Homo sapiens: one gene and its partners. The gene in region 1 interacts genetically with each later gene. Each region holds a gene or a part of one and is shown in the gene's direction. Other genes may lie near its edges. The genes, in order: GBF1, RBM5, ODR4 and DERL2.

Evidence for each region.
Region 2: changes in GBF1 (region 1) and RBM5 together harm fitness more than expected from each alone (negative genetic interaction), as found in Homo sapiens cells (one study listed by BioGRID).
Region 3: changes in GBF1 (region 1) and ODR4 together harm fitness more than expected from each alone (negative genetic interaction), as found in Homo sapiens cells (one study listed by BioGRID).
Region 4: changes in GBF1 (region 1) and DERL2 together harm fitness more than expected from each alone (negative genetic interaction), as found in Homo sapiens cells (one study listed by BioGRID).

The regions. Positions count from the first base shown.
Region 1 is NC_000010.11:102,374,432-102,381,987, forward strand, and holds part of GBF1 (Golgi-specific brefeldin A-resistance guanine nucleotide exchange factor 1), read left to right. Parts: intron 1-927; coding exon 928-1,153; intron 1,154-1,840; coding exon 1,841-2,001; intron 2,002-2,128; coding exon 2,129-2,369; intron 2,370-2,503; coding exon 2,504-2,709; intron 2,710-4,852; coding exon 4,853-5,003; intron 5,004-5,089; coding exon 5,090-5,220; coding exon of another isoform or gene 5,221-5,262; exon of another isoform or gene 5,263-5,298; intron 5,299-5,421; coding exon 5,422-5,523; intron 5,524-5,817; coding exon 5,818-5,931; intron 5,932-6,074; coding exon 6,075-6,255; intron 6,256-6,695; coding exon 6,696-6,824; intron 6,825-7,556. UniProt on the Homo sapiens protein: Guanine-nucleotide exchange factor (GEF) for members of the Arf family of small GTPases involved in trafficking in the early secretory pathway; its GEF activity initiates the coating of nascent vesicles via the localized generation of activated ARFs through replacement of GDP with GTP.
Region 2 is NC_000003.12:50,083,842-50,092,232, forward strand, and holds the start of RBM5 (RNA-binding protein 5), read left to right. Parts: upstream 1-5,077; 5' UTR 5,078-5,188; intron 5,189-6,540; 5' UTR 6,541-6,593; coding exon 6,594-6,610; intron 6,611-8,201; coding exon 8,202-8,367; intron 8,368-8,391. UniProt on the Homo sapiens protein: Component of the spliceosome A complex. Binds to ssRNA containing the consensus sequence 5'-AGGUAA-3'. Regulates alternative splicing of a number of mRNAs.
Region 3 is NC_000001.11:186,371,494-186,379,252, forward strand, and holds the start of ODR4 (protein odr-4 homolog), read left to right. Parts: upstream 1-4,344; 5' UTR 4,345-4,481; intron 4,482-7,759. Other genes in the region: nucleoprotein TPR, read right to left, coding at 1,866-1,970, 3,385-3,535. UniProt on the Homo sapiens protein: May play a role in the trafficking of a subset of G-protein coupled receptors.
Region 4 is NC_000017.11:5,470,291-5,476,271, reverse strand, and holds the end of DERL2 (derlin-2), read left to right. Parts: intron 1-1,482; coding exon 1,483-1,588; 3' UTR 1,589-5,018; downstream 5,019-5,981.

The DNA.
Region 1 (7,556 bases):
AACATGAGCTGGGCATGGTGGTGCATGCCTGTAGTTCCAGCTACTCTGGAGGCTGAGACAGGAGGATCACTTGCGCCCAGGAGTTTGAGGCTGCTGTGAGCTATGATCATACCACTGCACTCCAGCCTGGGTGACAGAGCAAAACCTGTCTCTAAAAAAAGAAAAAGGCAACATGAGGGATACTGTTGTGGTGGAACTGTTCAGTATGTTGTTTTGTGGTGGATACCCAAACCTACACAGGTAATAAAATTGTATAGAAATTAATACACACAAAAATGCAAGTAAAACAGGAAATCTGAATAAGATCAGATAGTATCTTGATTATGATATTATACTATAGTTTTGCATAATGTTACCATTGGGATAAACTGGGCAAAGTGTATAAGGGACCTTTTTGTATTATTTCTTTACAACTGCATATGAGCCTATAATTTTCTCAATAAAAATTTGTATTTGAGGCTGGGTGCAGTGGCTCATGCCTATAATCCCAGCACTTCAGGAGGCTGAGACGGGAAGATCGCTTGAGCCTGGGAGTTCAAGACCAGCCTGGGCAACATAGCGAGACCCCATCTTTCCAAAAAAGAAAAAAAAAATTAGCCAGGTGTGGTCACATGCACCTGTAGTCCCAGCTACTCCAGAGACTGAGGCAGGAGGATCACTTGAGCCCAGGAGTTTCAGGTTGCAGTGAGCTGTGATTGTGCTACTGTGCTCCAGCCTGGGAGACAGACCAAGACCCTGTCTCAAATAATATAATTAATATATTTCTATTTGAAAAAAAAAAAAAAGACCAGAGCAGTATCCTAAATTGGGTCCTAGCCAAACTGTCTTCACTGGCCTAAGGAGACTGGTGGGAAAGAAAACTAGACAGGAAGCTGTGTGCCCACACAGCTCCCCGCTTCCCCGCTCCCTGCCCTAACCCCACTCCAGGTGCTGCTCTCCCTGCGCATTTTGCTACTGATGAAGCCCAGTGTGCTATCCCGAGTCAGCCACCAGGTTGCGTATGGGCTCCATGAACTCCTGAAGACCAATGCAGCCAACATCCACTCAGGTGATGACTGGGCCACACTCTTCACACTGCTGGAGTGCATCGGCTCAGGTGTGAAGCCTCCAGCTGCTCTGCAGGCCACAGCCAGGGCAGATGCACCTGATGCCGGTAAGCCCTTTCCCAGGGAGACTCAGGCTGGCAGATAAACAGTTACACCCCAGGAGTTGGGACAGGAAAACAAAACACAGGTTACTGTGTTCAGCAGATTAAACAGCCCTGGCTCCTGCCATCACTTCCAGAGCTTCCAGTGCCCGCTGGCTAGTACCCATAAGTTAAATAGCATGAGGGCAAATAAGCAATGCAGACGGCTGTGAAGCCAGGCTTCCTACTGTCCTGAGGACTGATTTGTCCTGAGGACTGTTTCCCAGTTTCTGTTTCTGAGCTGTCCCGAGGACTGTTTTCCCAGAATTCTGGGAAAATAGAATTCTGTGAGCAGACTTTATATCACTAAATCGATACATCACTAAATCCCAGAAACTGGGAAAACAGTCCTCAGGACAGTGGAAAGCCTGGCTTCATAGCCTTCTGCATTGCTTATTTGTCCTTGCCACCACTCCCTAGAGTGGTGCTACAGCTGCCACTAGATGCCATCAGGAACCCAGATTAGCCTGCCACCTTATTTGGTCAACAGAGAAACTGTTCCGGCCATCCTTTGGCCCTCTGGTGACAGAAATTAAACTATGCCAGAGAGAGGGGAGGCCAGGCCTCAGCATCTTTTTTCTGAGAGCCTGATTTATCCCTCATCCCAGTGCCCCATCCCCACCCTGACTCTGCCCTTCTCCCTGCCTACCATAGGGGCCCAGTCAGATAGTGAGCTCCCATCCTACCATCAGAATGACGTGAGCCTGGATCGAGGGTACACTTCCGACTCAGAGGTCTACACTGACCATGGCAGGCCGGGCAAGATACACCGATCAGCCACAGATGCCGATGTGGTCAACAGTGGTTGGTTAGTGGTGAGTGACAATATGGGCAGCAATTGAGTCTCTCCTGCTTGACCTGTGGGAAGAATTCCTGGTCCTCTGCAAGGACATTCACACAGGGGCCAAGCCTGTGTCCCCAGCTCCTCTGTGTACTTTACAGGTTGGGAAGGATGACGTTGATAACTCCAAGCCAGGGCCCAGCCGCCCAGGCCCTTCACCCCTGATCAATCAATACAGCCTAACAGTGGGACTGGATTTGGGGCCACACGACACTAAGTCTCTGCTTAAGTGTGTGGAATCGCTGTCCTTCATTGTGCGTGATGCTGCCCACATCACACCTGACAACTTTGAGCTCTGCGTCAAGACTCTCCGGATCTTTGTGGAGGCCAGTCTGAATGGCGGTGGGTCAGCTGATGAGGGGGCAGCTGGGGAGTAGCCATGCAATTATGCAGGGGAGAGGCTGAGAGGGGAGAAAAGGCAGGGTATCTATGCCTATATAGACACAGAAATGTGACCTGAGTCTGGCTCTGCTCAGGATGCAAGTCCCAGGAGAAACGTGGCAAGAGTCACAAATATGACAGCAAAGGGAACCGCTTCAAGAAGAAATCCAAAGAGGGATCAATGCTTCGCCGGCCTCGAACCTCCAGCCAACATGCCTCTCGGGGCGGGCAGAGTGATGATGATGAGGACGAAGGCGTGCCTGCCAGCTACCATACGGTGTCTTTACAGGTCAGTCAGGACGTAAGTATGGCACCCTTTACTTCCTCTCCTCCCCTGCACCTGATACTGGGAGCCTGGGGCGGCCAGGGAAAGCCAGGGCTGAGGGGAAGGGCCCATGTGTGCCAGCCCAGGCCCTGGACCACCATCTTCACAATATTCCCTTACCCAAAACCTTACCTGTAAGTCTTTATTTGCTTAAATTTATTTATTTATTTATTTTTATTTTTATTTATTTATTTATTTATTTATTTTTTGAGATGTAGTCTCTCTGTCACCCAGGCTGGAGTGCAGTGGCGTGATCTCGGCTCACTGCAACCTCCACCTCCCGGGTTCAAGCGATTCTCCTGCCTCAGCCTTCCAAGTAGCTAGGACTACAGGCGCGTGCCACCATGCCTGGCTAATTTTTTGTATTTTTAGTAGAAACGGGGTTTCACCATGTTGGCCAGGATGGCCTTGATCTCCTGACCTCGTGATCCGCCTGCCTCGGCCTCTCAAAGTGCTAGGATTACAGGCATGAGCCACCACACCTGGCCTTTAAATTTATTTTTAAACTAAGATTTACTTATTTTTTGAGTAGGTTCAAAATATACAAAAGGGTAAACTGATAAAACTAAGTTTCCAATCCATTCCTGTCCCCAGCTTCTGAGTTCCCCTCACTAGAGGCAGCCACTGTCACCAGTTTCTTGTCTATCCTTCCAGAGTTACCCTGTGTCTATTCAAAGGCATATAAAATTAATTATGTGAGCAGAGTTTATATCACTAAATTGATGGAGAACCAATTGCCTTAAATAGAATAACCATACAAAAATGACAAAAGTGGCTGGGCTTGGTGGCTCCTGCCTGTAATCCCAGCACTTTGGGAGGCCGAGGCGGGTGGATCATGAGGTCAGGAGATGGAGACCACCCTGGCTAACACGGTGAAACCCCGTCTCTACTAAAAATAGAAAAAATAGCTGTGCATGGTGGCAGGCGCCTGTAGTCCCAGCTACTCGGGAGGCTGAGACAGGAGAATGGCGTGAACCCGGGAGGCAGAGCTTGCAGTGAGCCGAGATTATGCCACTGCACTCCAGCCTGGGCGACAGAGCAAGACTCCATCTCAAAAAAAAAAAAAAGAAAGAAAAGAAAAATAACGAAAGTAAAAATGTATTAAATCTGGCCAGACACTATTGCCCAATCAAAGCCTCTGAGCCTGAGGTTTTCTGTTTTAAAAATGAGATTAACAGCCAGGTACAGTGGCTCACACCTGTAATTCCAGCACTTTGGGAGGCTGAGGCGGGAGGATCACTTGAGGCCAGGAGTTCGAGACCAGCCTGGGAAAAATAGCGAGACCCTGCCTCTACAAAAATAAAAATGCAAAAATTATCTGGGCATGGTGGCACACATTGTAGTCCCAGCTACTGGGGAGGCTGAGTAGCTGAGTAGGTGGGAGGATTTCTTGAGCCTAGGAGATCCAGGAGGCAGTGAGCCATGATGGTGCCATGCACTCCAGTTTTGCACAGAGCAAGACCCTGTCTCAAAAAATAAAATAAGAAATAAAATTAGGCCGGGCATGGTATAATCACACCTGTAATCCTAAAACTTTGGGAGGACTATTGCTTGGGCCCAGGAGCTCAAGATCAGCCTGGGCAACATGGCAAAACCCCATCTCTACAAAAATACAAAAAATTAGCTGGCTGTGGCAGCGCACAGCTGTAGTTCCATCTACTCATAAGGCTGAGGTGGGAGGATCACCTGAGCCCAGGAGTTCGAGGCTGCAGCGAGCCGTGATTGTGCCACTGCACTCCAGCCTGGGTGACAGAGTGAGACCCTGCCTCAAAAAATAAAATTAAATTAACAACATGAGGCTTTCTCTGTCATCAGCAGGTGTGAAATAGAATTGAAAAGAAAGTATCTTTCTCACTGTGAGTAAGGATTGTGAAATACTCAGTCCACACACCTCCTAAGGCTCTCTCTCTCATGAGTAATCTCTGACTTGGAGAGTCCTTTACAAGGACTGGAACAACCAGGAAGTCAAGTCAAGGGAAAGAGTAGCGAGGGGGTGAGGTATGGCATGATTGGTGCTAGGGACACCTTGAGGACTTAGTTAGGGACAGTGAGTGGGGAGGGGGAAAGGGATCCACGAGACCTAACCCCACTCACATCCTGCCCCCTCCTGTGATCCTAGTTGCTAGACCTGATGCACACCCTGCACACGCGGGCAGCCTCTATCTACAGCTCATGGGCGGAGGAGCAACGCCACCTGGAGACAGGTGGCCAGAAGATTGAAGCTGATTCTCGCACCCTCTGGGCCCACTGCTGGTGCCCTTTACTGCAGGGTAAACCAGGAGGGGCAGAGGTAGGGAGTTTGGGGAGCATCAGGATCAAGATGCCTGAAGGATCCTGACCCTGCTCTTGCTCTCAGGTATTGCCTGCCTGTGCTGCGATGCCCGGCGCCAGGTACGGATGCAGGCACTGACCTATCTGCAGCGAGCACTACTTGTACATGATCTGCAAAAGCTAGATGCCCTGGAATGGGAGTCCTGTTTTAACAAGGTGGGACTTCCTACTGGTCTTAAGATAAAGTTCAAATCCTAAGAAAAGGAAAGCCAGGCAGCCTGAAGAGCCCCTAATGTGAGTCTTCAGCCTGCATCATACCTTCCCTTCAGCTCTATGCCCATCCAGTTCCTGGCTTCCTTGGGGCAAGGCTGCCTAGCTGAACCTCATAGGGAGACATTGCACATTTACCCCCACCAGGTGCTGTTTCCTCTACTTACCAAGCTCTTGGAGAACATCAGCCCTGCAGATGTGGGTGGGATGGAGGAGACCCGGATGAGGGCTTCCACATTGCTCTCTAAGGTACTGCTCACCACCCTATACCCACCCTCTCTCCCATACCTGCCTTTTCCCGAGGAGGGAAGCCAGGGCTTCTGGCAGGACCTAGAGATGCACTGTAGGTGCTCACAACCCCCCAGCTATGGACACTAAGCAGGACCTAGGGACCTGAGAGGATTCTGAATCTTAAATCAGAGATTCCTCCATCTCTGATCTAAGATTCTCATGCAAGATAGGACAGGCTTAGCTACCCAGCCTCAGAGAGGGGTCCAGAGGCTCCTACAGTCCCCTCAGCTGAAGGGGGCTGGTGGGCCATAGGTCTTCCTGCAGCACCTGTCTCCACTGCTGTCACTCTCTACCTTTGCGGCCCTCTGGCTCACCATCTTGGACTTCATGGACAAGTACATGCACGCAGGCTCCAGCGACTTACTGGTATGTTCTACCTCAGCTCTGCTGCCTGCCTCCTGTCCCACCTGTTGGAAGGACTTGCCCTTTCCCCCTTGGTAGCTACCTCCCTTTACCATACTCCCCCCATGCCCTCTTTCCTATTCTCATGGTCCCACTGCCACCTGCAGTCAGAGGCGATCCCTGAGTCTCTGAAGAACATGCTTCTGGTGATGGACACAGCGGAGATTTTCCACAGTGCAGATGCACGGGGAGGCGGCCCCTCGGCCCTCTGGGAGATCACCTGGGAACGCATTGACTGTTTTCTCCCTCACCTACGAGATGAACTCTTCAAGCAGACCGTCATCCAGGGTAGGGGGCTCAGCCCAGCTTTATCAAAAAGAGTCTCCTGCCTGGGCACAATGGCTCACACCTCTAATCCCAGCACTTTGAGAGGCCGAGGTGGGTGGATCACCCGAGGGCAGGAATTTGAGACCAGCCTGACCAACATAGTGAAACCCCATGTCTACGAAAAATACAAAAATTAGCCAGGTGTGGCGGTGGGTGCCTGTAGTCCCAGCTACTCAGGAGGCTGAAACAGGAGAATCACTTGAACCCGGGAAGTGGAGGTTGCAGTGAGCCGAGATCACAGCCTGAGTGACAGAACGAGATTCCATCTCAAAAAAAAAAAGTCCCCAAAGCTGAATTTATTGTCTGTGCCCTGGGTGGGTAGAAAGGCTGTTGGGTAGCTAGGGCTCTGCTGGAGAGAGAAAGCACTAAGAGGTGCCATCTCAATTCTCTACCGTCTCCAGACCCCATGCCCATGGAGCCTCAAGGCCAAAAGCCTCTCGCCTCAGCCCACCTGACTTCCGCTGCTGGCGACACTAGGACACCTGGCCATCCACCGCCCCCAGAGATTCCATCTGAGCTGGGGGCCTGTGGTGAGTCTCTCTAGCCTAGCCTGATAGGCACTGAGTAGCAAGCAGGGGGCCTAAGAGGAGGCCCAAGGGGGCGTGGGAATGCTGCTGAGCAGGGTCTGTGAGCCGAGGGAAGAAGGCCACTAGAGAGAACTGTTGCCGCTCTTCCCATGGGAAATGACAGGACCATAAGCTATGAGGAACTAGCTGCTTGCAGTCTTCAGGCTTGGGAAGAGAAGGCTGGGTCAGGGACTTGGAATGAATTTGCAGAGGTTTCCTTTCAGGGATTCTAGTAGAGAGTAACCTGGCGGCCAGGCGCAGTGGCTCATACCTGTAATCCCAGCACTTTGGGAGGCTGAGGCAGGTAGATCACCTGAGGTCAGGAGTTTGAAACCAGCCTGGCCAACATGGTGAAACCCCGCCTGTACCAAAAAAATATAAAAATTAGCTGGGCGTGGTAGTGCACACCTATAATCCCAGCTACTGGGGAGGCTGAGGTGGAAGGATCGCTTGAACCCGGGAGGCAGAGGTTGCAGTGAGCTGAGATCATGCCACTGCACTCCAACCTGGGTGATAGTGAGACCCTGTCGCGAAAAAAAAAAAAAAAAAAAAAAAAAAGAGTAGCCTGGCAAAGGAGATAGAAGGTAGCTGAACATTGAAATGAGTTTTGAGGGGAGACTCCCAACTTTTTAGGCTGGTGGGGGGCCGTGTTGCTTACTGGAACAAGGAGGAACAGAGACTCTATAAGCAGCCAGC
Region 2 (8,391 bases), on another chromosome or scaffold:
ATGACTCTTAATGAGCATGCTGCCTTCAAGCATCTGTTTAACAAAGCACATCTTGCACCGCCCTTAATCCATTCAACCCTGAGTGGATACAGCACATGTTTCAGAGAGCACAGGGTTGGGGGTAAGGTCACCGATCAACAGGATCCCAAGGCAGAAGAATTTTTCTTAGTACAGAACAAAATGAAAAGTCTCCCATGTCTACCTCTTTCTACACAGACACGGCAACCATCCGATTTCTCAATCTTTTCCCCACCTTTCCCCCCTTTCTATTCTACAAAACCGCCATTGTCATCATGGCCCGGTCTCAATGAGCTGTTGGGTACACCTCCCAGACAGGGTGGTGGCCGGGCAGAGGGGCTCCTCACTTCCCAGTAGGCGCGGCCGGGCAGAGGCGCCCCTCACCTCCCGGACGGGGCGGCTGGCCGGACGGGGGGCTGACCCCCCCCACCTCCCTCCCGGACGGGGCGGCTGGCCGGGCAGAGGGGCTCCTCACTTCCCAGTAGGGGCGGCCGGGCAGAGGCGCCCCTCACTTCCCGGAAGGGGCGGCTGGCCAGGCGGGGGGCTGACTCCCCCACCTCCCTCCCTCCCGGACGGGGCGGCTGGCCGGGCGGGGGGCTGACCCCTCCACCTCCCTCCCGGACAGGGGCGGCTGGCCGGGCAGAGGAGCTCCTCACTTCCCAGTAGGGGCGGCCGGGCAGAGGCGCCCCTCACCTCCCGGACCGGGCGGCTGGCCGGGCGGGGGGCTGACCCCCCCCACCTCCCTCCCGGACGGGGCGGCTGGCCGGGCAGAGGGGCTCCTCACTTCCCAGTAGGGGCGGCCGGGCAGAGGCGCCCCTCACCTCCCGGACGGGGCGGCTGGCCGGGCGGGGGGCTGACCCCCCCACCTCCCTCCCGGACGGGGCGGCTGGCCGGGCGGGGGGCTGACCCCCCCACCTCCCTCCCGGACGGGGCGGCTGGCCGGGCGGGGGGCTGACCCCCCCACCTCCCTCCCGGAGGGAGCGGCTGGCCGGGCAGAGAGGCTCCTCACTTCCCAGTAGGGGCGGCCGGGCAGAGGCGCCCCTCATCTGCCGGACGGGGCGGCTGGCCGGGCGGGGGGCTGACCCCCCCACCTCCCTCCCGGACGGGGCGGCTGGCCGGGCGGGGGGCTGAACCCCCCACCTCCCTCCCGGACGAGGTGGCTGCCGGGAGGAGACGCTCCTCACTTCCCAGACGGGGTGGCTGCTGGGCGGAGGGGCTCCTCACTTCTCAGACGGGGCGGCTGCCTGGCGGAGGGGCTCCTCACTTCTCAGACGGGGCGGTTGCCAGGCAGAGGGTCTCCTCACTTCTCAGACGGGGCGGCCGGGCAGAGACGCTCCTCACATCCCGGACGGGCGGCAGGGCAGAGGTGCTCCCCACATCTCAGACGATGGGCGGCCGGGCAGAGACGCTCCTCACTTCCCAGATGTGATGGCGGCCGGGAAGAGGCGCTCCTCACTTCCTAGATGGGATGGCGGCCGGGCAGAGACGCTCCTCACTTTCCAGACTGGGCAGCCAGGCAGAGGGGCTCCTCACATCCCAGACGATGGGCGGCCAGGCGGAGACGCTCCTCACTTCCCAGACGGGGTGGCGGCCGGGCAGAGGCTGCAATCTCGGCACTTTGGGAGGCCAAGGCAGGCTGCTGGGAGGTGGAGGTTGTAGCGAGCCGAGATCATGCCACTGCACTCCAGCCTGGGCACCATTGAGCACTGAGTGAACGAGACTCCGTCTGCAATCCCGGCACCTCGGGAGGCCGAGGCTGGCGGATCACTCACGGTTAGGAGCTGGAGACCAGCCCGGCCAACACAGCGAATCCCCGTCTCCACCAAAAAAATACGAAAACCAGTCAGGCGTGGCGGTGCGCACCTGCAATCGCAGGCACTCGGCAAGCTGAGGCAGGAGAATCAGGCAGGGAGGTTGCAGTGAGCCGAGATGGCAGCAGTACTGTCCAGCTTCGGCTCGGCATCAGAGGGAGACCGTGGAAAGAGAGAGAGAGGGAGACCGTGGGGAGAGGGAGAGGGAGAGGGCTAGAAAAGACAATCTTAAAGGACTATCCCTTATTGAACATATGTGGCTTTATTTAAAACAAAGAGCAACTCACTCTGATGTCTTTCTTTTTCTTACATCAGCTACCAGACAGGCCTTTGGCAGCAGAGCTCTGGAGCTCAACAGGCCAATGTCTAAAAGAAGATCAGCTACCAGAGATAATTTGGAGGATGGCACTTACCTATGGATGAAATCCATCTTTTTTTGCCAGGGACCTCTTCAAGTTTAAGAATTATTTTGCAGGCTGGGCATGGTGGCTCACGCTTGTAATCCCAGCACTTTGGGAGGTTGAGGCAGGAGGATCGCTTGAACTCAGGAGTTCGAGACCAGCCAGGGCAACATGGTGAAACTCCATCTCTACCCCAAAAATACAAAAAATTAGTTGGGCATGGTGGTGCACACCTGTGGTCTCAGCTACTCAGGAGGCTGAGGTGGGAGGATCTCTTGACCTGGATAGGTCGAGGTTGCAATGAACCGAGATCATGACATTGCACTCCAACCTGGGTGACAGAGTAAGACCCCGTCTCAAAAAAAAAAAAGATTATTTTGAGGTTTGTGAATAGCTATATAGCTTTTATGACTGGTGGTAAGCCCAGCTCAGCAAGCACCTCAGGAATATCCAAAGGTGCTTGTTGAACTGCTTTGGGGACAAGGCAGGCAACGGCTAGTGGCTATGAAGTCTAGTGAGTTCTAGATTCTTGGCATCTGCATCATCCATTGTAGGGTTTGCAGTGATGTCATCAATGTTAACTTTTAAATTTCATTAATGCATGTACTCTTTTCTGATATTTTGCATATATGCTTCCCCATAAATTGTATATATTTCCTCTCTAAATACACACACACCACATATATTATATTTCTACCTTTTCGTCTATATATGTATTGTGTATATACCTATATATAGATATATACACTGACATCCCTCCACTTATTCTTGAAAGATTTGTTTTCCAGAGAGAGAAGAAAATGGTATAGGCACAGTTTTCTGTAACTGATGTATAACTTTCTGTAACTAATGGTATAGGCACAGTTTTCAATTTGTATGACCTGAAAAATCAGTTCTGGCTGGGTGCGGTGGCTCATGCCTGTAATCCTAGCACTTTGGGAGGCTGAGGCAGGTGGATCACCTGAGGTCAGGAGTTCGAAACCAGCCTGGTCAACATGGTGAAACCCCATCTCTACTAAAAATACAAAAATTAGCTGGGTGTGGTGGCGGGTGCCTGTAATCCCAGCTGTTTGGGAGGCTGAGGCAGGAGAATCACTTGAACCTGGGAGGCAGAGTTTGCAGTGAGTTGAAACTGTGCCATTGCACTCCAGCCTGGGCAACAGGAGCAAAACTCCATCTCAAACAAACAAACAAACAAAAATGTTTGCAAAGCATCTAGGGCAATAATATAGCATCTAGTAAAGCGATCAACTAATGTTCCTCATTTTAATTTATTTTTTATTTTTATTTTTTTTTGAGATAGAGTCTTGCTGTGTTGCACAAGCTGGAGTGCGGTAGAGCAATCTCGGCTCACTGCAACCTCCGCCTCTTGGGTTCAAGCGATTCTCCTACCTCAGCCTCCCAAGTAGCTGGGATTATAGGTGTGCGCCACCACACCCAGCTAATTTTTGTATTTTTAGTAGAGACGGGGTTTAGCCATGTTGGCCAGGCTGGTCTCGAACTCCTGAGCTCAGCTGATCCACCTGCCTCGGCCTCCCACAGTGCTTGGATTACAGGCATGAGCCATCATGCCTGGCCCCTCCTTTTTATTTATTTATTTATTATTATTATTATTATTATTATTATTATTATTATTATTATTATTTTGAGACTGAGTCTTGCTCTGTCACCCAGGCTGGAGTGCAGTGGCACGATCTCAGCTCACTGCAACCTCTGCCTCCCTGGTTCAAGTGATTCTCCTGCCTCAGCCTCCCTAGTAGCTGGAACTACAGGTGCATGCCACCATGCCCGGCTAATTTTTGTATTTTTAGTAGAGACGCGGTTTCACCATATTGGTCAGGCTGGTCTTGAGCTCCTGACCTCGTGATCCACTTGCCTCGGCCTCCCAAAGTGCTGGGATTACAGGCGTGAGCCACTGCGTCCAGCCTTTTTTTTTTTTTTTTTTGAAACAGAGTCTCACTCTGTTGCCCAGGCTGGAGTGCAGTGGCGCAATCTCGGCTCACTGCAAGCTCCGCCTCCCGGGTTCACACCATTCTCCTGCCTCAGCCGCCCAAGTAGCTGGGACTACAGGCGCCCGCCACCATGCCCAGCTAATTTTTTTGTATTTTTAGTAGAGACGGGATTTCACCGTGTTAGCCAGGATGGTCTCGATCTCCTGACCTTGTGATCCGCCCGCCTTGGCCTCCCAAAGTGCTGGGATTACAGGAGTGAGCCACCGCGCCCAGCACCGGCCTCCTTTTTATTTTTTAGCGACAGTTTCTCGCATTGTCCCCAGGCTGGAGTGCTGTGACGAGATCACAGCTCACTGCAGCCTCGACCTCTTGGGCCCAAGCGAACCTCTCACCTCAGCTCCTGAGTAGCTGGGACAAGAGGTGCACGCCACCATGCTCAGTTAATTTTATTTTTTGTAGAGATAGGATCTCACTGTGTTTCCCAGGCTGGTCTCGAACTCCTGGCCTCAAGCGATCCTCCTGCCTCGGCCTCCCAAAATGCTGGCTTGTGAGTGAGCCACCACTTCACGCACGGTCTCCTTTTGAAGTAGAATTAGACAATGTTTTACACCGTGCCAGTGAAAGCAAACTGTACTCTCTACGGCGCTAGTAGCAAAAGCAAAGAATTATTAACATGCCTAATAGGAGCCCTAAAAACTAATCCAGGTCTGCAAAAGCCGATCGACAACTCTGTAGTGATTTAGAAGAGAATTGCAAGACATTAACACAGAGCGTCCTAAGTGACAGGATGGTCTGGCGACCACATTTCCCGGCAGCCCTCGCACAGCCAGGCCGCTTCGAGGATTGGACTTCTCCGCAGGAGGCGGGTGACAGGGGGAGGGGATAAGCGTGAGGTACTGTGGGTAGGAGACGGCCGTCGGCGGAGGCGCCATTTTGTGTAGCCGCCGAACCTTGTTGGAGGTTCTGGGGCGCAGAACCGCTACTGCTGCTTCGGTCTCTCCTTGGGGTAAGTGCGGCGGCTGTCTGTAACGACGGTAGGTTCTTGCCATTTGGGCTGGCCCCCAAGCCTCCCTTGTCAGCTGCCGGAGGCGACTGATCAGCTCCAGCCGGTTCTGTAGAGGGGCTAAATTACCCCAGGCGTTGGAGGGCCGCGCCCTTCCTTGTTGCCAGCTCTGTCAGTTTCCAGAGGGTGTCCAGCCAGCTCAGCCTTGGGCCTGCTTCTTTCTGGCTGTGACTTTGCCCCTTGTGGATACACGTCCCCTAATCTTCAGCCCAACGGAGCAGTGGAGCCGTCGCCTGTCCCTCGGGCACTCCTTGGGAGCTCCCTGGCAGTCTCTGGCCGCCATCCCCCGCTCAACTGCAACTGAATCGCCCTCTCCGAAAAGCTGTTCGGTGATCGCCCATCTGCGGGTTTGGAACCTCTTGGGAGGCGGGAGGGGCATGTGCGGGGAGGGCAGGCCGGACGCTGGAGTCGGTCGAGCAGGCCGTGACGCCGCCATCTCGGCCGCGAGACCCCACGGAGGTGGGTGCCGGCACCGCCCGGGAGACAAGGGGCGGCACCAGTGAATATGCCCCGGGACTTGTTTCCCCCCAGTGGTTCTTTTTCATTTATTAATTTCAACAAATCGTTGAGCATTCGCTCTAGACTAGGCTTCCAGAGACTACTGGAACTGATTTTTCGGACCTCGCGCTCATCGAACGCGGTCCAGCAGTGTGATGTCTTATTACCAACGGGGGGCGGGGGGCCGGGCTGTTCACTACTCAGTGGTTTGTAGTCATAAGAACTGGCTCAAGACGTGGTGGTTATTGTTACCTAGGAATTAGGTCGTTTCTAGCTTTGCTCTTGTCTTATGCGATACGTTATTAATGTAGTAGATTTCAGTCAGCTCAGTATCCCAGCTTCTACGAGGTTTTACATTTTTCATCAGAAGTGTTTGAATTTCATGTTGCTCCTTGTATTAATGAAGACACTTGGATTAATGTTTTAACGGTCAACTATCCCACGGAGTTGCTTTGATACAAAACCAAGGAGCTGATTGTAGCTCTGCCCTTTTTGCTTTGTAATTCTAAGGTAGGAGCAGGGAAGGAGTCTTCTGCTTGCTCCGTATTATGATTCTGTTAAATCTGGAATCTAATATTTTAAAATATGCTTAATCTTCCGGTTTTGCTCATTGTTAACAAAATGTTAGCACGATTTTAACGTTGACAGTTTGTCCCCACCACTTCCCCACCTTAGATAATCACTGTCAATGATTTGAAGGTTTGATGAAATCCCAGCCTCAGTAGTATCCAAGCTATGGAGCTGCTGACTTAAGTGATCTCTGAGATTTATAGCAATTAATCTCTCTTGTCTCCTAGAAAAAATAAAATTTGAACCTTTTGGAGCTGTGTGCTAAATCTTCAGTGGGACAATGGGTTCAGACAAAAGGTAAGTTACTACAGTACGTGGCTTTGATCTCAACATTTCAGTGGGGACTGAACTCCTTGTTTAAAATAGTTTATCAAACTAATATATGAGTGTTTTGCGCCAGGCATTGCTAACGAACACCTTTATGATCCTGTTGTCACAAACTACAGTCTAGTGAGAGAATTAAAGTACTGTGTGAACATGCTGTGATAAAGTGTAGGGTGCTCTTAGAACACATAGGAAGTATGTCTTTTTCTTGTTCACAGCCAGGAAAGCTTCCTGGAGAAAATATTCTCTGGAAGGAAGCTGAAGGATAAGAAAGAATTTTAGGCAAAGAAGGGCAGGGTAGAGTGGGTCACTGAAGGTTCCCTGTGTGGACAGCAACCTTTGCAGAATCCAGGAGATCATACAGTCTGGCACTTAGCACAGTTCCTGGCTGTGGTAAGCAATCAATGAATGCCATTTCTTGTTATTGTTCCCTGAATAGCAAGATGATCCAGACTTAGAGAGCTGAGAAGCTTGGGACTGTGTGTTACATGAAGAAAGAAAGAGCCAAAGAATTAGTGGAAAATTAAGATGAGAGCATTTGGCTATTGTGTCACCTATGGGTACATGCTCTCAGACCATTTGATTTAAACACACACCCTTATTCAGCCATCTGCCTTTTTAGTATTGAGGTCAGTCCCTGTGGTAGATCACATTGACAGGCTGAGGGACCTTAGGAGATGTTCATGTCACATGGTATTTTAATGCTGTGTCAGCAGTCTGTGGTTCTAAATAGCTTACTAAATTAACATTTACCCCTTTGGGGTGTCTCAGTCCCATATTTCCTTTGATTCTTTTTATTAAATTTGTATATTCTAAATGAAGCCCTTATAAACCTTTCCTTTGCCTTATGATTGCACAGCAGTTTTATGAATCTGGTAAACAGTTTACAAAAGGTGTATTTTATCTGTGGTCAAATAGGTTTAAGCCTCTTGTTATTAGGTTTTCCCATGAAGCCCAGTGCTGCCCTTTAGCCAAAAATAAACCAGATGTTATAAGAAGAGTGTTCTCTTAAGGGGTGCTAGTTTTGGGTAACTATCCAGTTGTATCTGACAGACAACTAAGTTGCCTGATGGGGAAAAAAAAGACTAACTTAGTTCATCCAGGTTTTTGGTCCATTTTCCAGTAGGCATGATACCCTTGAGAGTAGATGAGCCAGGGATGTACTTAATTTCACCCTTTAAAATTGGGTGAAATTCGAGTAACTGCTTTCTTCCTGTTTTTGGTCACTAAGATCTGAATCAGGGATGAAGGGATAATATGTAGACTCTAGGCTTGACAAAATGCAAAAATAAACTTGGACAACATGACTCTTTCTTAGAAATATTCAACCCAAATGTTTATTTCAGATTTAGCATACATTCCTGAGAATTATCATTACATTTAGGGATGTAGGTATTTTCCCAGTGGTTATCTTAGTAAACTGGAATTTGGTAATACTTTTTAACACTTTAAACTATTTGGATTATCTTATAAACTGATCTGTGGGCCGTGTGTATTTTTAACTATGTCTTTTAAAGGTACAAAATGTGACTGACTTTAGAATGAAAATTATTTTCCCTGGCAGAGTGAGTAGAACAGAGCGTAGTGGAAGATACGGTTCCATCATAGACAGGGATGACCGTGATGAGCGTGAATCCCGAAGCAGGCGGAGGGACTCAGATTACAAAAGATCTAGTGATGATCGGAGGGGTGATAGATATGATGACTACCGAGACTATGACAGTCCAGAGGTGAGTGACCAGCGGCTGTATAAC
Region 3 (7,759 bases), on another chromosome or scaffold:
CTCTAAATAGAGCCTTTAAAGAAAAAACATTATGCTTGATAACGCACTTATCAATCTCTCAATTGCCACTCAAAATGGGCTCTTTTCCCTTACATGCAGTTTCTCTTCTAAACATAGGCTAACTAGAAAAAATATAATTTTTAAAATTTTTCCAAAAATATACATTTTGAAACTGTATTTCACTAAAATACATATGTTGGCAATTTAATAAGCAAATACATTTTAATTAATTCTAATCTTAACTTCTATTTAAAGAGGACCATTAAAGCAAAAAAATCCCCATTAAATGTGTCTAAATTTTCTATTTTGTTTTAATATTATTTACTGCTTTCCAGACTTACTGATCCAGAGTATATAAATACACACACACGCGCGCACACATTAACTGTATACCACAGGAAGGTATCTGATGTATCTGTAGGTTCATCCCTTTTTCTCTTCTCCCAGATCTCGTAAAAGCTGTATTCAGTCATTTTTCTCAAATTCCTCGGCACTACTACTAAACAGATCTTTTTATTATGGCTAGGCAAAACTACATAGATAATGAACCAGATCTAGCTATATATGCTCCATCACACATGTATGCATATACATTACGTTTTTAAAATGAGGTGTACCAAAAGTAGCTGAAAAAAGTTATAACCTAAATAGTTGATGGTCATGGACCCATTAAGAAGGAAAGCTGCAATTTTAATCATTTGATTATGAACTTCCTGTGTTCCTTCTCCATCAATCAAATTAAAATTGAACTATATTAAGTATCAATTAATTATACCAGCCAGACACAGTGGCAATCCCAGCACTTTGGGACGCCGAGGCGGGAGAATCGCTCGAGGCCAGGAGTTCAAGACCAGCCTGGCCAACATGGCGAACCACTGTATCTACTAAAAATACAAAAATTAGCTGGGCCTGGTGGTACATGCCTGTAATTCCAGCTACTCAGGAGGCTGAGGCGCAAGAATCGCTTGAACCCAAGAGGCAGAGGTTGCAGAGAGCCAAGATTGCACCACTGCATTCCAGCCTGGGCAACACAGTGAGACTCTGTCTCCAAAAAAAAAGGAAAAAAAAAATTAATTACACCTTTATAGAGATCTTTCCTAATGTTCTGATGTTTGCTTTCTTAAAGCAGAAGCAGTCTACAGCCAGACCACCCTGAAGGCACCCCATCTCGTCTGATCTCGGAAGCTAAGCAGGGTGGGGCCTGGTCAGAACTTGGATGGGAAAAGCAAAGCACAAGACATATCATCCTCCTAAGAAATGTCAGGATCTTTAACATCTTGTGAACTTTCTAAAACTTAATGATGTAAGAAAAGTAAGAAAGAGATTAGCTATCAATCTTTTATAGGAATTAGGCCTTAAAGGGGAAATATCCTGAGATTCATAGATATTTATAAAAATTATTAAAAAATGGAGTTAAAACATAAATATAATGAAATCAATAGGCTTCGATTCTTCAACATAAAAACAAGCCACTCTCTACTTCTTTAGTTGCATAATGCTTTCACCTTTTTAAAAAGATTTCAAGAACTCTTATCTCATTTGATTTACAAAGCTGTCTAGGTAGACAGACATGTGGGTCTAACCATTTTATAAACAATAATCAGATACTGTTAAGATTTACATGTGGCAAAAGCAATTTTAATAGCAAAATCAGAATAAGAATCCAGACCTCCTGACCATTAAATTCTGTGTTCTCACAAAATCTTTACCACTAAGTGAAAAATCAAAATATCACCATAATAAAAACCAATGATGCTTAATCAATATTTTCATGTTTAGTAAGCAAATGTTTCCAAAGTATATAAAGGAGTCTCTGAAGATTTCGATACTCCGAGAATACTTACAAAGATGAATTAAATACTTACTGAGTTTCTCTAGCTCAAGCCGCAAGCTTTGACACTCTCGGGTTTCATTCACAAGTCTCTCCTGACTGTGGGACAACCTCTTTTCTATTTCAAAATACTGTTGTTCTACAGCAGACAAGCAAAAAACAAAAAACAAAATCAAACACATGTACATACATTGTGAATACTGTTATTTATTTCTAATAACCTTGATTTTAAAACTTAAGATACAGTATTAGAATTGTGCTCCACATAAGAGAATCTGAGTAAAGATAAATAGACTGAGCACTGAAAAGGACTTAAAGCATTTCCAAACGACTTACATGACAAAAAATAAAAAATAAAAATAAGGCCTAAAAGGGGCTTTACAAATCAATGTCTTCAAGGCAGGTAACCTCATTTATCTTAGTATTTTCTCCAGACATCAGTAAACTGCTTAATAAATAAAGTATTTATTACACGAGAAAAAATTGTTTAGACAAAAAAAAACTCCTTTGTTTTAAAAGACTTCTTTTATAGTAGTCAAGATATTACCTGAAAGCATAAAACTACTAAATATATGTAAAAGTAAATGTGTAAACTTTCCAAGGGAAGGGATTGAATATCATGTTCAGCATAGTATCAGGAACATGTAAGACATTCAATATTTATGGTGCAAATTAATAAATAGAATGCAATGTACTATACTCAGCTCTGGGATCAGAGAACTAATTTTCAAGGTCAATTCTGCTTGACAGTTACACTTTTTTTGAAGTAAAAACTTGTTCAGAATTTCCAGTCAACTTAGCAAGAACAGTATGAACCTCCCCAAACAAATGGTAAACCAAAACACATTAACGGGAAGTTTGTATTTTACTAATGGTAATGACTATATTCTTCATATTTTTTTCAAGGATGTTCAAGCCATTATTGTCAGTAACTTTCTTACTTAAAGGCCTACTTTAGGTAATTACAAGAAAATTTTAATGTTTTCTATCAAACTCCAACTTTTTAAGAGAAATCAAGATATATTAAATTTATGTACTGCACATTCACTGTGTTTCCAGCGCTCTTATGCACCTAATATTCATTTTTGTAAACATCTGATTCGTTCTGGAGCCACGGGACGACGCACACACTAAGAACAAGTGCACAGAGTGGTCAATTTGGCAAAGGCCTAGAATGCAGGTGCCTAGAAAATAGGGCGGAGCCACTATCAGTTGAAGTGCAACAAAACATATAAGGTACTCTAGGCTTAGAGAGATGGGTTCGCAGACTCTATCAAGTCTGTTTCCCGTCTGCCGGACGAAGGAAAATAAGCGTCCCTGTATGAGCCTACCCTAACTACAAAGAAAATGCTACTGAACTTAGATTCAGATTTTTTTTTCAAAGGCTTCTTATCAAACTGTAAGGAGCAGGAAAGCGAAGGCTCAGGATATCCACAGAGCCCAGGAAGTGAGGTTAACAGAGCGGTACCCAGTGCCAACTTGATGGGGGAAGACCAGACCCAAAGGGCGGGAGTCGAGCCCAAAACCAAGGACGGAAAGAGCATCTCACTTACCGCTCTCCACCTTAAATTTCTCATGCCGCCCCTTCAGGCCATCGATCTCGGATTGCTGATCAGCAAGGAACTTTTCAAGTTTGTTCTGGACAGACTTGGGCAGCTTGTTCAGCTCCGTGCGCTCCAGGACTTGCTGCAACACCGCCGCCATGTCGGTGGGGCCAGGGACCCCAGTGGCAGCGGCCGACGGGGTAGAAGCGGAGAAGAAAGGCGAAGACCAGCAGGACCCAGACGCCTGGGCCGCCGCCTCTATCACCTCGCTCGGTGGCTCGCGCGCGCCCGCCCGCCGGAGACTCCCGCGGCGGGACCCTGGGAAATCGAGTCCACCCTCAGCGGCAGCGTTTCAGCAACAGCACCTCACCGCCCGCGACCGAAGTGCGCGCGCAGCCGTTGGAAGCTACGAACCCTGGGAACCCGAGCTCAGAGGCTATCCCTGATCCTCTTGCGCACCCAATTTTCCGGCTTCCAGCTCCACCCACTTCAGGCCTTGTAGGGCTCTGGGAAATGTAGTGTTTTTCTCATTCTTTTCCGGGAGCCCAATGCTGCACCGCCCTCTCAGCTTCCGTTTTTCTCCCCGCTCCCCTGGCTCTCCTATCTCGGCCCCGTAACCGCTGTCCGCACGGTGGCGCCACATACGTACTCGTCACCCCTTGGCCCTCCCTGAAGAGCTGGTGACCTTACCGTCAAAGCCCCGGGATGCCATGGATCGTCCTCGTTGGCGGCTTCTGGACACTGAGCCACTAGAGGGCATCGGTCCCGGTAGGGCCGGACGGCAGGCTCCGGGATACCGCCACGCTCTCTATGGCGCCCAGAAGGGGGCGGGGTGGCGACCGCAGTCGCTTTGGCTGAGGCTCTGCGGGGAAGGGAGGGGGGGCTTTTACGTCATCAATCTGCGCCACCTGACTCCCAAGTCCCTGGCTTTGGAGTGGGAAGTGAGGTGTGGGAAGTAGGTCGCTTTCTGATGAATTCAGTGGCAGTGAATTGAGACCGGAGGGAATCTGGCCCCTAGAGGCTGGTACTTGGGCCCGAAACCCCCATCTCCGGCGGAGAGACCGTCCGAGGTAATTGTCTGCCACGAGTGCACATTCTGAAAACAGGTAAGTCAGCCTAAGTGTAGTGTGTGTGTGTGTGTGTGTGTGTGTGTGCTCTCTTTTCAAGAGAAAAAGGAAGGGACAGTGTTGGAACCATATGGACAGTCACTCCGGCACACACTTCTGACGAACTTACCTTGTGTGAAACGGCGTACCTAAATGGTTTTTGGTGGTGGGGAGGTGGCACTGAGTGATTCAGTACCCGGGAATTTAAGGACCCGGGTTAATTCTTCAGGAGGAGAATTAAAAGAAACCGGTAGCACTTTGAGTGTAGCCTATGTTTTAAATTTTTCGTTGCAGAAACGGTTACCTAACATTATATTGTTTTTAAAATTGAAAACTGTTGTAACTGAAGTTTTTAAACACATTGTTAATTTCTACAGTAACAGAACTTGTATGGTTCCAGATCATAATTCTGTAGTTTTAAAGCTCAATCCGTAGATTGTTTCGTGTTTACTCTTATGAAAGAATTTGTTAAATTATTCATTGTAAATAATGCATTCCCAGTGTCGTCTCTCTGCAGTTCCCACAGTCGTGGGCCTTCTGTGAATTGGTGATTTAGTTCTTATATGAAATTTATTCTTTTTCTCTAGTTCTTACTTTTGAATCATGTTGTGAAGCCGTCTAAGAAATATAAATGGAAGCATTTTATGATATTTTGTAATAACTAAGGAAAAATAAATCAACAGCGGAGCTTAAGGTTGATTTTTCCCCAAAAATATTTTTTAGATAAGCATTGTAATTAAAGTTGCTGGTATATGAAGTATTATGCTATGTCCTAAGCCCACAGTATTATCATACTGTTGATCTGTCATTTGGGAAATGTAGATTTTTCTGTACTTAGATTCACAGAATCCTAAAATTAGATAGGTTTTCAGATCTGCTAGGATTCAAATGCTTTATTTTATAGATTAGGAAACCAGAGCCCAGAAAGGTTGAGTTGTGTCAGTCACAGTGCTTGGACCACAAAGGCTTTGGCTGATATACAACATTTCTGGAAAATTATGACCCTATAAGGCAAAATACAGTTGTCCCTTGGTATCCGTGGGGCATTGGTTCCAGGACCCTCTCACCTGCCCACCCCATGGATATGAAATCCATGGATGCTCCAGTTCCTTATATTAAATGGTGTAGCATTTGCATATCTTAAATCATCTCTAAGTTACTTATAATACCTAATACAATGTAAATGCTATAGTTGTTATATTATATTGTTTAGGGAATAGTGACAAGAAAAAACATCTTTAATGATACAGATGTAATCATGCTTTAAAAAAATAATTTTTCAATCTGTGGTTGGTTGAATACATGGAAGTGGAAACCACAGATGTGGAAAGCTGACTATATACATTTTTAGTACTGCCTTTTATAAAGTATGGTTGACTACATTTAAAAATTTTGAAAGAGCACTAAAGAAAAATTTATCTGACATTCAATCAGATTTCATAATTGAATAGATTTTCATCTCCCTATTACATTCAGTTTCTTACACATTAATATGGCTACTAGGTGACACCCTAGAAGAAATAAGGTTAAAAGGTTAAATATAACTTTAGAATTACTTGTATTTGTTGCAAGAATTAAGAATTATTAGACCAGAAGGAAAAGGAGTATAATATGATATAGAGGAAAGTAGATACATAGAATTGCATACCTTAAGGCATTACTAAAAGGTAAAAGCCCTTAACTTCACAGAGGCAACAGTGATATTTAGACAAGCATTCCTAGACTTAGTCTCTAAAAAATGATATGCAAATCTGATTCACGTCTATTGTTGTCAAAAAAGAGCTAGGAAGGCCAGGCATGGTGACTCACACCTGTAATCCCAGCACTTTGGGAGGCCAAGGCAGGCAGATCACACGGTCAGGAGATCGAGACTATCCTGGCTAACACGGTGAAACCCCGTCTCTACTAAAAATACAAAAAATTAGCCGAGTGTGGTGGCGGGTGCCTGTAGTCCCAGCTACTTGGGAGGCTGAGGCAGGAGAATGGCGTGAACCTGGGAGGTGGAGCTTGCATTGAGCCGAGATCGCGCCACTGCACTCCAGCCTGGGCAACAGAGCAAGACTCCATCTCAAAAAACAAAAAAAAAAAAGAGCCAGGAAGAAATTAATGTATTTTGAGACAAAACTGAACAAGCTCATTGAAACAATAAGGAAACAGCCTCCAGTAGGACATTTCAGACTTGAATCCATTCTCTGGGCTTTAGTTTTAAAATGCAAAACCGTTTTGTGACTGACAGTTTACTGGTATCAGATATACCACCCCAGCATATCTCTGGTAGCCTTAACTTTGTGGTACTGAATAAGATTCACATTTTTAACAGAATCCAAATGATGATGATTCCTAAATTGCAGTGTTCAAAATACTGTAACTGTGTTCCTGCAGTCTCTGTTTGTTTTATAGCTCTTTTGGATATCATCTCTTTTACATTTTCATCCTCACTGATTATGAACTCCTTGATTTAATCATTCATTATATTGCCTAGCTCTTTTATTCAATATCTTTGGTTTTAAGCTATAGAAATGCAAATCAAAGGAGCATAAGCCAATAGAGGGAATGAATATACTGACTTCCATCCACAGACCAGAGGGAAAACAGAGTAAGAGCTACCCGTAGTAATGATTTAATTGAAGGACTGGTTACGATTCCTCATTATGAGCGTGGTGTTGAAAAACATGGATTCTAGAGCCAGAGTGTCTGAATTTAAGTCCCTCCTTTGCCACTTACCCAGCTTTGTCACTTTGGCAAGTTATTTAATCAACTTTTCTCATTTCAGTTTCTTCATCTATAAAATGAGGATTATAATAATGGTACCCACTTCCTGGGGTTTTATGAATTATTAATGTTACATGGAAAGTACTTACAATAATGCGTTGTACAAAGTAGAAGCTATATGTTGTTATTGTATTGCTATTTATCTACTTAAATAACTCTTACTGTAGTATGTATTGCTCAAGGACAGAGATTGTGTTGCTCATCTTTGTGTTATCCCACTTAGCATAGTTTCTAAGCAAATAGTATAGTTCTTTCATATATGCTTATCAAGTAAATGAATTTGACTCTACCTCCTAATGAACTATTCAGAAATTCATGTTTACGATTTTAGCAATGAGAACACCAAGACTTAGCAATAGAGTATCAAAGATAATACAACTAGGGAGTAGATCTAAAATAAGAAATCTGGTGTGTTGGCTGGGCATGGTGGCTCACGCCTGTAATCCCAGCACTTTGGAGGCCGAGGCGGGCGGATCACCTGAGGTCAGGAGTTCGAGACCAGCCTG
Region 4 (5,981 bases), on another chromosome or scaffold:
TTTTATCAACTGTGGAGGATTACAAGTAGAAATATAAGTGCAAATTGAGGATGCTGCTTTAATGGTTCCTTCTTTAGTGAGGTTTTGAATTACTACATCATAGTACTTAGGGAGTCTTTTGGACATTTACTATCCCCTCCTATGTTCTGCAGTAATTTTTCTTGGGATACCTTGTTAATTTTTTAAAAATTTTGTGGTAAAATAATACCTAACATAAAATTCACCATCTTAACTCATTTTAAATGTTCAGTGGCATTAAGTATATTCATACTGTTTTGCTGCCATCACCACCATCCATAGAACTCTCTTCATCCTACAGAACTACAACTCTGTACTCATTAAACAACTCCCCACCCCAGCCATCACCATTCTATTTTCTTTCTCTGAATTTGACTACTCTGTACCTAAGTGGAATCATACAATATTTGTCCTTTTTTGTCTGGCTTATTTCTTATTTCATTTAGCGTAAAGTCCTCAAGGTTCATCCATGTTGTACCATGTGCCTGAATTTCCTTCCTTTTTTTTGAGACAGTCTTGCTCTGTCGCCCAGGCTGGAGTGCAATGGAGCAGTCTCAGCTCACTGTAACCTGTGCCTCCCAGGTTCAAGTGATTCTTCTGCCTCAGCCGCCTGAGTAGTAGCTGGGATTACAGGCATGCGCCACCACGCCAGGCTAATTTTTGTATTTTTGGTGGAGACAGGGTTTCACCATGTTGACTAGGTGCAGTGGCTCATGCCTGTAATCCCAGCATTTTGGGAAGCCGAGGCAGGCAGATCACCTGAGTTCAGGAGTTCGAGACCAGTCTGGCCAACATGATGAAAACCTTCCCTCCTAAAAATACAAAAATCAGCCGGGCGTGGTGGCGGGCGCCTGTAATCCCAGCTACTCGGGAGGCTGAGGCAGGAGAATTGCTTGAATCCGGGAGGCGGAGGTTGCAGTGAGCCGAGATCGCACCATGGCACTCCAGCCTGGGCGACAGAGTGAGACTCCCGTCTCAAAAAAAAAAAAAAAAAATTCTATTATATGTGTGTACCGTATTTTGTTTATTCACCTGTTGATGCACACTTGGGTGATACCTTGGTTATGGGGAAACATTAATGATAAATATGTGAAAGTCAGGTTACAAAACATGTAGTGTGATCTAACTTTTGTAAAATGACATAATGTAAAAATTCCCAAAGAATAACTAAAACATTGACAATAGTTACCTCTGGAAATTGAGGATATTTTGCTCATCTCTATTTCCTCCTTCTCTGTAATTATTATGATTTGGATTGCTTTTGTAGTAAAAATCAGTAAAAGATAAAAGCTAATGTAAATGTTAATAATTATAGATGCTCTTACAATATGTTAACTGTTTAATTGGCAGGCAGGTGTAATGCTTACCTATTGGTGGAAACCCTATGGGGCCTGAACTGACCTTGTAGTACTTTGGACCTGAGATGACTCTGGGACCAAATTATATCTGTTGCTTGTCTTTTAGGAAAGCTATTTTTGATACACCAGATGAGGATCCAAATTACAATCCACTACCTGAGGAACGGCCAGGAGGCTTCGCCTGGGGTGAGGGCCAGCGGCTTGGAGGTTAAAGCAGCAGTGCCAATAATGAGACCCAGCTGGGAAGGACTCGGTGATACCCACTGGGATCTTTTATCCTTTGTTGCAAAAGTGTGGACACTTTTGACAGCTTGGCAGATTTTAACTCCAGAAGCACTTTATGAAATGGTACACTGACTAATCCAGAAGACATTTCCAACAGTTTGCCAGTGGTTCCTCACTACACTGGTACTGAAAGTGTAATTTCTTAGAGCCAAAAAACTGGAGAAACAAATATCCTGCCACCTCTAACAAGTACATGAGTACTTGATTTTTATGGTATAAGGCAGAGCCTTTTCTTCCTCTTCTTGATAGATGAGGCCATGGTGTAAATGGAAGTTTCAGAGAGGACAAAATAAAACGGAATTCCATTTTTCTCTCACTGTATTAAAGCTTTTGTGTGTGATCTTTTAAATTCTGATAATGTATTGTAGCCCTCCTGCGTAGATCTGAGCTCAGAACAGTTTACACAGCTGTTCTTCCTGTGTCTTCACAACTTTTAACTGGATTTCATTTCAGGATTGGAAATACGTGGCTGTCATGCTGTGGTTGTGTACATCTTACTAACTCAGAATGCAAGATTCAGCAGGAAGATGATTTATTTCTGTCATCTGGATAGGTTGTTTTGCATCTGGGTTTTGCCAAACTTTGTCAGACAACATGAAAAAAAAGGAGGGAGGATGGTTCTTGTAGCAGTAGGAATTCAGCTATAGGAAAGTCAGCTGTAAGCTAATGTGGCATCTTATTTGCTTTACTTACATTTCTCCATTAAGAAGTATCCAGGGAAAGATTGGTAAGGGCCACATTTTTGTAAAACTAGGAAGATTTTCATTAGACTTTTTTTTTCTTTTATTTTTAAAAAAGTTTTAATTAAAAATTTTTTTTTAAATACAGATGGGGTCTCACTGTGTTGCCCAGGCTGGTCTTGAACTCCTGGACTCAAGCAATCCTCCCACCTCAGCCTCCCAAAGTGCTAGGATGACAGGCATGAGCCACCATGCCCAGCCATTTTTTTTTTTTTTGCCTTTTTTGTTTTGTTTTGTTTTTTGTTTTTTTAATTAAAAAAAAAAAATAGAGACAGGGTCTCAGATTTTCATTAGATTTGGAAACCAAGTTAGAATGTTGACTTTGGAGCCAGACGAACAGATACCAGTTAGCTAGGCATATGTTCTTCCAGGGTCTTTGGCTAGTTAACATTAGTCATTTGCTTCGTGAAAATTCAAGAACCTTTTCAGAGCCAAGTACCTGGATTACCTTCCCAATCAGGTAGAAATTAGACAGGGTCCACAGAAGTAGACACTTAATGCTGTGGTTCAATAAATACTTCCCCTAAATATTAAGTCTTCCCTGAGTCTCAGCAGGTTTGCATTCACACTGCTTAAGTAACTTCCAGAACCTGGAAGAGTCGAAAGAGCACCCCTAGGAAAGAGATGATTCCAAACAGCTTTCATTAACGGCATGTAGGCACAGGTCCCTTTCCCAAAAGTGGATTGTTAGTAGTAGTTCATTCAACCTTTGTTAAGGGGTAGCTTTCCAGAATGTGACATTGTCCTCAGAAAGATAGACATAGGCTTAAACATAATGGACATCCTAAATAGGAATTTTCAGATTGTTTTTGAAGTGAAAAGTGTTTTAATGTCTTTAAATGGAATTGCATAACTAATGGTATTTAAGTATTTTACATGTTGCTAATAACTTTGAATATGATTGTTGCAATTTTATGGAACCTGGGTCTATGGGACTGCTTTTTAAGCAGTTTAAAAAAGGTTTTCAAAGTTTAAAAGCCAATCTTAGCATGTATAATCCTTATGGGATTCTTAAGTTTTATCCTATCTTGTTTTTGCTCAAGAACGCTTTATCAGTGACGTTTGTTAGAATTTTGTTTTTTGTTTTTTTTTTTTAAATTGTTTTTGGGCTAGAAATGAGTTTCTCTAGTTTTATTTGTTCTCCCTGAGTTGGAGTTATGCAATGAATGGCATTTTTGTGGTAAAATACTAATCCTAAAATCTGTTAACTCACTGTTCATTTAAGTAGGGAATATCTGTATACATTAATGACTAGGTAAAACAGGAAATACATTTTGAATATACAGCCTAAAGGCAGGCAGTTACAGGGTTTTTGATTTCTCCGATTTTATAGGGTGCAAGTTCCCAGTGGCAGGATGCCCTGCTGTGTGACTGACTACACTGTGTCCTGAGCAGTGGTAATTTCAATCACCTCTCATCAGTTTGGCCAGCCCTACAACCACCATTCCTAGCCCTGTGTTGCTTGACAGGATACCTGTGCTTGAATGGACATAAGGAAAAGTCCTTACTTTCTCCCCAATTTACCTCTCAATCTTAGTTCTTCCAGAACACACTTCCCTTTCACAATGCAAATAAACTGAAAGTGAGATTTGATACATGGAATTTTGAGACCAACCAACTAACCTTACACATAATTTGAGGGATTCCTGGATTCTTCTAGTGATACTGAAAAGCACACTTGACTAAAGCATAGTGTTTTTTGTTTGTTATGGAAATACGGTATACGTTCATTTAAAAATAAATGGACATACAAATTGCATCTCCTTAGGAGATACATTTTATATACATTTCGGTGCGTTTTTTTCCAGTATGGATTTCTATTTGTTTCTCTCTTCCTCTTGTTTTTTCTGTGTCACTCTTGTATGTCCTCATATCTTTCATACCTCTTGTGTAGTCTCTAGAAGCAGAACACCTAAGTCCTGGGTCTGGATAATGAAACCCTCAGTCTCTGGGGCCTCTGAAAATAAGGAAGCATTGGAGCTATTGCCATGTTGAGTAATGGGCTTCCTAGAACTATTGTCATCTATCCTGCCAGTGTTTTATGTTGTAGCTGTTTTTCTTTGACAGGTGAGTTCCAGCTATGTTGTTAGTCATGATCCTGCCATTATTTTCTGTGTTCTGTAGGATGTCTCCAGGCTACTTAAACATATTTTATGAGTTTGCAATAAAATTGTTGAATCTTGTATGATCAAGTCACTCCTCTGCTCAGAAATCCACAGTGACTTCTTAGTAAGCCCCTACATTATATGCATACTTGTTTTTTTCTTAACTTTACTCCCACTTCTACCTAACAGGGACCTCAACTTAAGTCTCTTCAGTTCTTCAAGGCCTGGCCTTGTTCCTGATTCCTCAAAAAATCTTGACTCTAAGGCCTATTTTATTGTCTGTCTCTGAATCCCTATAAAGCTTCAAGTCTGTATGACATTCTTAACGCCAAATTATATATTGTCTTGTACTGTTCCTAGCTGGTACATGTATATTAGTCTTGTCTCCCTCATGAGAATGTAAGCTCCTTAAGGGCAGGGACCATGTCTTAATTTTTGTATCCACCACAGTGCCTAGCACAGTGCTTGGCACATGGGTGCTGAATAAATACCTTTGTTTATTGATCAGCAAAGTATTATCTGGTATTTTTAATTATAGAGGGATTAAAGTGTATGCATGCAAGCTTGAGCCTAGTTGCTGAAGCTTGTGGTTGTCTCTGAAAGTGGGATAGAGGGAAACTGAACATGATCAAGGGCAGTAATTTGGTGGTCGGAAAAGCAAAGGTGACCACCAGCTGTTATGGTCGTGATCAGACCAGTTAAGTCCACAGACCATCCCAGACAAGTTAAAAATGAAATGTGTCTGACACTTCGTCGTTTGAAGGAAGAACCAGGATATTCTCTGAATAGTTATTAGCTTGTCAGTATCTACATATGAAAGCTGGTGAACCCCAAGAGACTTCTTCAGGAGAAACAGCAGATTTCAGTCTACCAATGGGAGAAATGTGAGCAGCATGGCTTGATGCATATATAGGACTTAATTTTTCCACTCTTTGGTCCTCTTAGCTTTGAGGCTATAGAATAGCTGGATCATTAGGCCAGAGATTATGGATGAGTTACCTACAGATTTGTTACCTACCTATGTGCTTTGTTTTGACAGTACTTTTTTTTTTTTTAAGTTTAAACCTGTATTTAACATTGACAGATAAAAATCTTCACTTTTGGCTTTTCTTGAGAAAATTGGAAGATCTGGCAATAATAGGTCTACATGACAGCCATTGCCTAGAAATGATTAGGGGCTGCATGTAGAGGTGGAATGTGCTCCATCAAGAAATAAGTCCACCCATTTACATTACCTAAATTATTGTAATCATTTGGAACATCGGACTCCTACCTTAAGTTACTCTGGAAAGCACACTGGGAAAAAGGACTGGGATGTCTTTACTCAAAGTCCATAATTTGAGAGTTAACATTTATTATCCCTTGTAGTTTTGGGTTGCCTTTCTAAATATTTCAGGGTAGGAAGTGAAAATTTGTCAGTTTATTCTTAAACACAAATCTGCTGCTGGTTCAACGTGCACATTTTCAGTAATGCC